Regions from separate parts of the Homo sapiens genome. Here region 2 is reported to be linked to region 1. Evidence: microRNA targets listed by miRTarBase, many of them from high-throughput screens and not tested one by one. Region 1 holds a microRNA gene; the other region holds the end of a gene's coding sequence.

What was found. Region 1 holds the annotated microRNA hsa-miR-4430 (AGGCUGGAGUGAGCGGAG, at 1,567-1,584, shown strand). A microRNA usually pairs through its seed, bases 2 to 8, with sites in the 3' UTR of a target mRNA and lowers its output. Matches are read on the target gene's strand: a 7mer-m8 pairs with bases 2 to 8, a 7mer-A1 pairs with bases 2 to 7 and ends in A, and an 8mer does both.
Region 2: miRTarBase lists RAB5B as a target of hsa-miR-4430. Seed matches in the 3' UTR shown: 7mer-A1 at 2,258-2,264 and 7mer-m8 at 1,443-1,449.

The regions. Positions count from the first base shown.
Region 1 is chr2:33,416,953-33,421,368 of GRCh38, forward strand. It overlaps MIR4430 (microRNA 4430), which reads left to right and starts at 1,564; the gene lies at 1,564-1,612.
Region 2 is chr12:55,991,414-55,995,413 of GRCh38, reverse strand. It overlaps RAB5B (RAB5B, member RAS oncogene family), which reads right to left. Exons shown (of 6, transcript NM_002868.4): 5 at 3,961-4,000; 6 at 1-3,317. The coding sequence ends at 3,202. Among named protein-coding and RNA genes, the nearest start is that of SUOX, 3.9 kb to the left of the region's middle.

The sequences.
Region 1 (4,416 bases):
CTCCCCATTCTGCACTTCTACAAGTGGCTTTTTGAACCTCAGTACAAAATTTTACCTTTGCTCCTATTAATTTCTCTTCTGTTGTTGGTCCCTTTCTTTAGCCTTATGTTAAGATGTTTTGAGATTCTGATTCTGACTTCCAGTATGGTTGCTGTCTCTTCCAAGTTGACATACACTCTCCATCTTTATTCAAGATATTAATGTAACTATTAAGAAGGATATCTCTTTAAGACAAAAAAAAAGTGCAATACAAAAAAACAACTTCCTTTTGCTGAGTTGCTGAGCCCCTTGTGAGGCTGACAATGGCAGGATGGTTTAGTCTGTCGTCTCCAGAGGGTTTCCTGCCAGGGGACTTCTGGATTTCAGGATCGGCCAACATGAGTCAAACAGCTCTTGGAGCTCTTTATTCTCAAACCTTCTCTGCAAATCAGAGCTGGAGATTTCAGGATTCCCTCCCCACATTCCTCATGACCAGTACCGCTCCCTATTTTCTCAATTTTTCATGAGTCCCTTCAAAGAGAAATAATTTAAATAAAAAGTCTTTCCCAGATTTACCTTTTGCTGATTTTCCATTTTTCCCAACTAGGCAACAAGACTTCATTTTGTTCACTGATGTGTCACACAGAGTATTTCAAATAGTTTGAAGCCAGAAGAAGCAAAAAGGGAAGATGCTAAGAGGTCACCAGGGCCGGGCGTGGTGGCTCATGCCTGTAATCCCAGCACTTTGGGAGGCCGAGGCGGGCGGATCACTTGAGGTCAGGAGTTCAAGACCAGCCTGGCCAACATGGTGAAACCCTGTCTCTACTAAAAATACAAAAATTAGCCGGGTGTGGTGGTGGGCGCCTGCAATCCCAGCTACTCAGGAGGCTGAGGCAGGAGAATCGCTTGAACCTAGGAGGCAGAGGTTGCAGTGAGCCGAGATCACACCACTGCACTCCAGCCTGAGCGACAGAGTGAGACTCCATCTCAAAAAAAAAGAAAAAAGAAAAGGCAACCAGGTTTCTGTTTTGGGGGGCTACATTGAAGAAATCCAGTGTTTCCTACCTGCTTTCCATGGTGGCGGCGGGGGGGAAATCTGAATGAAAAAAGAGATTAGATCCATCCTTGAGCATGGTGGGTTTGAGGTGCCTGGAAACATCTACACAGAGATGCTGAAAGTCCATGAAACTGACTAGTCTGAAGCTGAGAAGGCGGACTGGCTTAGTGCTCTGCAATGTGCAGATAGAATATCTATGGATACTGAGTCAGGGCTCTCACAGTGTTGGTCTCAAGGCAATCCTGGTCCTTAGAATAGACATGGAAAAAGGCACAAGGCAGAAAAGGCCCTCTTTCTTTCCATGTCTATCTCCCTCTATGATCATAGACAACATGCGTTAAAAATCATATTATAAGCTGCTCTTAGAACTTGATCGCTTCAGCTCACAAGTTCAAGGCAAGTCTCGGCAACATAGCAAGACCCCATCTGTACGAAACATTTTAAAAATTAGCCAAGCATGGTGGCATGTGACTGTCATCCCAGTTACCCGGGAGGCTGAGGTGGAAGGATCACCTAAGCCCAGGAGGGTGAGGCTGGAGTGAGCGGAGATCGTACCACTGCACTCCAACCTGGTGACAAAGGGAGACCTTGTCTCAAAAAAACAAAACGACTCCCACCTCCAATAAAAAACCCTCATCAACCCCAAATCTAGACAAGTAATGTCCACTTTTGCCTGAGATTTTTTTTTTTTTTTTTTTTTGAGGCAGAATCTCGCTTTGTCGCCCAGGCTTGAGTGCGGTGGCACGATCTCGGCTCACTGCAACCTCCACCTCCCAGGTTCAAGTGATTCTCCTGCCTCAGCCTCCCGAGTAGCTGGGACTACAGGCGCATGCCACCATGCCTGGCTAATTTTTTGTATTTTTAGTAGAGACAGAGTTTTACCATGTTAGCCAGGATGGTCTCAACCTCCTGACCTCACGATCTGCCCACCTTGGCCTCCCAAAGTGCTGGGATTACAGGCGTGAGCCACCGCGCCTGGCCTTGCCTGAGGTTTTTAAATCAGCTTTACCCATCCTACTGACTGGGGGAGGGTAGCGGGTAGGTGGATGGGTTGATAATTTCCACCTCCATAGCAATCACCCTAAGCCTTCTATCTTGTTCCAGTCCTACTCTTATTTTGCTTATGTCTCTGCCCACCTTCAACCTCCTAACTTTGTGGTCACTCTTTCAAATTCTGTCTGTGGTCTTTGCATTTGGTATTTGAACTTGATCTCCCTGCTATTTGAACCTTCAGTTACCCCCAACCTCAGTTACCATCATAGATTTTTCTTTGGAAGAAATACCTTTTATTAGTCAGGATCCATTCAGCAGACAGAAGCCACACCAGGTAAAGGAAAAGGAAAATTTTAATATGAAGAATTGCAACTAGGTAAAAAGCCATTAGCTAGGTAACTGAGAAGGGAAAAAAGATCTCTAAAGTATCACAGAGGTAAGTGGCAACTGCAGTCATCAGCTACCACCCTTTCAACTGAGGGAAAAGAGGGAAGAGATTGGAATTATTAAACTTGGAAACGTAGAGTAGGAGTCTTGGAGACTCAAATTTTCTGAGGAGTTGGTACTGGCTGGCTGGGGTTAATGTCTCTGAGTGGGTACAAAGGAGCGTGTTTTATAAATGGGACAAAATTGAAAAGCAGATTCAGCTGCTGCTGTGAGAAGGCCGTGCCTCTGCCCATTTGAAGAAGCTTTGCTCAGGTGACATCACAGGAATAAGAAGTAGACAGGAGGCAGCAAATTCTCTCTTCTTCCTCCAGCCTTGCAGGCTCCCTCTACCACCCCCTAAAGAGCCTGAAAGGTATCTGGCTGGAAAAATAGAAATGTCGTTTGCAGTTTCTGTCCCAGCAACCCAAAGCGAGGTATAGAAGTGTATTTGAATTTGAAAGATAATAATGCTGTAAGGTCACTGTTTCTGACCTTAGCCAGCTCCCACTCCTCCCCAGCTAATTACTTCCCACTCCTGCCTCCAGTAGAGAATGACATATTTACCATTCATTTCCCACTGTGTTCTCCAAGTCTCTGCCCTTGCCCTGGCAATTGTAAGCAAATTGTTACTATCACTTTCCTTTCCTGATTCCACATTACTGCATGAGTAAGTTACAGTGCTCTTCAAGCAGGAGTCCACCTTGCTCTTTCAGCATGGTGAAGACAGATGATCTGCCTTACAAGCAGCTGCAGATCTTTTCCTTACCTCGAATCCTTTCTTCAGAGAAATTTGGAGGTAATTCCGAGTTTCTCTTGGGCTCCCTTCAGCAGCTTCATTTACTCAGGCTGTGGTCTTGTTATTTAATGTTGCATAGCAAATCACCCTAAATTGTAAAGGCTTGAAACGAGAACAAGCAGTTGTTGTCTTTTATGGTTTCAAGGCATCGGAAATTAGGAAGCAGGTTGGCTGAGCTGGGTTGAGGTCTCTCATGAGGCTGTAGTCACGTGGTGGATGAGGCTGGGGTCATCTTGAAAGCTCTGGCACCTGGGCCGGGAAGACTCAAGAAGCTGGGGATAGGAACAACTGGGGCTCCTTAGGTATCTGTCTACTTATTTAGACTCTCCAAGTGGTCCTTTTCAGAGTATCTTGATTTGTACATGGAAGCCCATGCCCCACAGAGCAGTTCTCCCCAGAGAAGCCAGGAGAAGCTGTATGTCTAACTTCACTCAGAATTATCCTCACTTCTGCCACATTCTGTTCATCAAGGCGGTTACAAAAGCCCACCCAAGTTCAACAGGAGGGAACATAAACTCTACTATTTGATGGGAAGAGTGTCAAAGAATTTGCAAGCACTTTGAAAACCACAAGCGGCACCTCTGGCTTAGGGTTTGTGGGAAACTCTGAACCATTGTTTTTCTCATATCTAGAATTATACTCTTTCAAACAGGCAGGATTCCTGACTATACTATGTGGCATGCTCTCCTTCCTGCACATGAATATGTAAAACAATAGAAAGAAGGGACATTCAGCCTGGACACTACAGTCCTCATGCTGGTCCAGGATCAGAGATACAATCATCGGTGCTTCCTGACTGGTCCCAGGAAGACCTTTTAGGATTGTTGCCTGAAGAGTTAATTTCCATGTCAAATCTACAAAGCTCTGGGGCAGACCGCAAGCCACTGCAGCTGGTTATATTCGCCACTCTCTGCTGGCACCTCCAGGAGGGCACATAACTGTCCATGTATTATGCTGGGGCATATCACATCAAATATGGGGTCTGGCCTGAGCAGCAAACATCCACTACTGGGAAAATGAGGCTGATCAGGCTCCATTCATGAAGATCAGAGCAACTGGTGCCTTCCTACAGGTTTGAGCCATGATAGAATTAGAGGTATGAGTGGTAGCACCAGATTTCTGTATATGGCTTGGGAGTAACAAGTGGGTTGGGAAGGGGAGCTAA
Region 2 (4,000 bases), not on the chromosome of region 1:
ATGGATCCTAGAAATATGCACATACGGCCGGGCGCAGTGGCTCACGCCCGTAATCCCAGCACTTTGGGAGGCCAAGGTGGGTGGATCACGAGGTCAGGAGTTCAAGACCAGCCTGACCAACATGGTGAAACCCCGTCTCTACTAAAAATACAAAAATTAGCTGGGTGTGTTGGTGCGTGCCTGTAATCCTAGCTACTCAGGAGGCTGAGGCAGGAGAATCACTTGAACTCAGGAGGCGGAGATTGCTGTGAGCCAAGATCGTGCCACTGTACTCCAGGCTAGCGACAGAGACTCCGTCTCAATTAAAAAAAAAAAAAGAAATATGCACATACATTTTTGTATACTACTTCAAATAGCACCCCTCTCTCTAATCTGATCAGTGGGCCCAAAGATCCACAGACCATACCCTACACATATACATTCTGTTAAGAGGGCCTAAAAAGATATAATAGGGTTTGATTTGATGAACAATCTAGTGGCCTTAGAAGAGGGGTGATTAAATAGCAATAGAAGGGCTATTTTCTAAACTAGATGTTTAAGAAAAGATTAAAGGGAATAAAGATGTATCAAGATGCAGGGAAAGGTGTGTTTCTGATTCAGTAGAACATTACTGGGTATCCTTTCTTCCAAATTCCTAGTACCTGACAAATAGCAAAAATAATAATAATAATAACAATAAAATAAAAAAAAGCAACACTCCAATGCCCTTTTCTTTTTTTCCTTTTTTTACTTACATTAAATACATCGGTAAATCAGCAGTCGCATTCTGTTACCACGATTGTTATGTTGGGAGAGGAAGAAAGGCAAATGCTTTCTCAGAAGCAAAACAAAAACAAAAAACCACAACACCCCCCCTTAAAAAAACTGACCAGAAGAAAAAAATGAGCTGGGAAATAAACAAAAGAAAACTAAGATCCCCAAGCCCAACAGAGCTCAAAGGAAGGCAGAAGAGGTGGTAGGAAGTAGAGGGAAGGCAGCCGATAGGCCCAGAAGCTAAGGCCAAATCCTGTTCCTATGGGGGTGGGGGGAGGGAGAAGCCTGGGGAAGTGGTTTCCCAGGCCCAAGATAATGAAACATCTTCACTCCTGCTCCAAGGGGGAAAGCTGCACAGAGAAAGAACTTCATTTCTAGAAGACTTTGGAAAGCCATCCTAGTTCTTCCACTTGTAAAAAGGATGCACTGGGTGCTATGGGGGGCCAGTGGCTTCTGGGAAAGGAAGGGGGAAATGTGTGTGTTTCAGGGCCATGGGAACTAAGGCTGCCCCTGGAAAAGGAAGGGAATTGAGGCCTAAGTGGAAGAACCTAAGCTGGGTCCTTCAGAATCTCAGCTTCATAGATTTCTCAGCTGTTCTGGGATAGAAGGCAGTCTGCAAGCCAAAAGGGCAGGAAGGTTCCAATCCTAGGTCACTGTGACCTTTCCTTTCTTTCTTTCCCAAAACTCCGGGCTGGAACAAGGAACTTAAAGTTCTCTTTTGCCTTGATGGCTTCTCAGAGACATCTTAAAACACCTGATGAAGGATATGAAGAGAGACTAGAGATTTAGAAAGGACCAAGGTCCTCTGATAATATGAGCCAGTTGTAAGGTACCTTCAGTGCCGGTCATTCCCTCTCCACAGGAACAGGTGGTATGATACGAGGGCACCACAGGAGGCCTCTGTGGTACTAGCCCCTATTGGTACATGGATTAAACCACTGGTTGCATGATGGGGAGGGATGGGGGGATTAAGGATGGAGGGACTAAATTCAAGATATTAACAAAGGAACAAAGAAACAGGGCCTGATGGGAGGCAGAGGATAGAACAGACTGTACAGTGGGAATAAAGATCATACCTATTTACAAGGAAGTAGAAAAGACATGGTAATGGATATCAAATTGAGTGTGAAACCTGGGAAAGGACAGAAAACTCCTCCCTTTTGCCTGACCTCCTTTTTACTCCCCTACCTTGGCCTGTGCTATCCTGAGACACTCCTCAATTGCTCAATTAATTCTCCAGGAAAGGCAAACCTATAGTCAATAGTTAGCTTGGCAAGAATATAGGTTAATAATTAGAGTTGGAGGAAGCTAACAGTGGAGATAGGACTTGAGTAGCTGCCACTGGTAGTTTTATCTATAACCTCTCCTCGAACCTCGCATTAACCTCAGATTTCATTGAATTAAAAAGAAGGTGGGAGGGCAAGTAAATCAATCAAAACTTCCATAAAACAAGTACCCCAACTGAACTACCATCAATTAAAGTGCAAACTGCAGGGGTATATGGTGGCTGGGGCTGAGGCCATCTAAAGGCCAGAGGGGAAAAAATGCATATGTATAAATCAGAGGATGGGTACCAGAAACTGTCCCTCCTCCAATCAGATCACAGCAGAGCCAAAGATGCAGGCAACCAGTGAAAATTCTTTGGAAGACTCTGGGGTCCAACCCCCACGATTAGGGGAAACGCTACCTAAGAGGCTGCGTGAGGGGAAACTGGGCCTTTGAAGAGTTACAGAGCCACAGTTGACACTGCACCTCCACCTCCGCCCAGTTAGCTTACAAGGCACCTCCTGCCTGGTGCCTGAGATCTTGCCTCCCCATTCTCACCTCTACCTAGGAACACCCTCCACAAGGCCAAATCATGGATACCGCAATGTTTTCAAATATGAGAAACTCCAACCAAATAAAAACAAAAAGGAAATGTTTCCTTACTCCCTCCTGCTCTGAGCTTTATTCTCCCCCAGGGCCCTTAATGTAAATGAACTGGAAACCTCCTTCCTCAGTTCCTGGGTTCACCACTTTCTGCATCCTGGGGAGAGGAGAAAAGAGGCTCAAGAACAGGGACTGACCAAAAGCAGAAGGGGAAGGGACAGGAGTCAGAAGTGTTTTCTGAAAAAATGGGGAGGAACACTAGGGAGGAGGAGAAAAGATACGTAAGTCGCTGTCTTGTACCTATAATACAAAGTGAAGAAAGTTTGTTTTGGAAGGTAAGTCCTGGGGGGAGTTGACCCCCAAGCCCCAGAGTAGGGGGTAGGAGGCCAGTGGCAACAGCTGCCTGGTGTTTGTTGCTGAAGCGTTAAAAAGTGCCATGACGGAGCTGTCAGGAGGCAGCCCTTGGGAGCCAGGGCTCAGTGTGCTGTTACCGTAGGGGTTGTGTGCTGAGGGGTAGGGATGGAGGTTATTTCTTAGCTCTTGTGCTAGCTCCATACTTGTTTGCTGCTAGCCACCCCCTCAGTTGCTACAACACTGGCTCTTGTTCTGCTGGGACTGTTCATGGAGATCCACACCCCGGCTTCGGCCTGCTGCACCTCCCAGATTCTGGGGTTCACTCTTTGGCAACTTCTTAGCTAGAGATAAAAAGAGAAGAGAACAAAGTATGGTAGACTTTACTTCCCTACCCCTCTGCCTCCACCCGCCAAAAACGGCTACTGAATTGGGGAAAAGGGAGAATTTGAGAGATTAAAAGAATGTTCTGAAGATGGGAGGGTTCACTATTTGCAAACTTTTTTTTTTTTTTTGAGATGGAGTCTCGCTCTGTTGCCAGGATGGAGTGCAGTGGCACAATCTCGGCTCACTGCAACCTCCACCTCCCGGGTTCAAGTGATTATCCTGGCTCAGCCTCCCAAGTAGCTGGGACTACAGGTGTGCGCCACCACGCCCAGCTAATTTTTGTATTTTTAGTAGAGACGGGGTTTCACCACATTGGCCAGGATGGTCTTGATCTCTTGACCTCGTGATCCGCCCGCCTCGGCCTCCCAAAATGCTGGGATTACAGGTGTTAGCCACCACACCTGGCCGGCAAACTTACACATTGAAGACAAGGGAGCTAAAGCTGCAGCCAAGGATGGAGGTCATAACAGAAAGTTAAGGTATTTCCATACCTAAAGTTTTTGCAAAAGGAGATACTCGCACCTATCCTTGATTTGGGTTAGCTATAATTTTGCCTATAAACGAGGGAAAAAGGAGGACCTCAGGATGTTCTGACCTTACCTATTGCCAGGAAGAGATCATTCACGTTCATAGCTGTCTT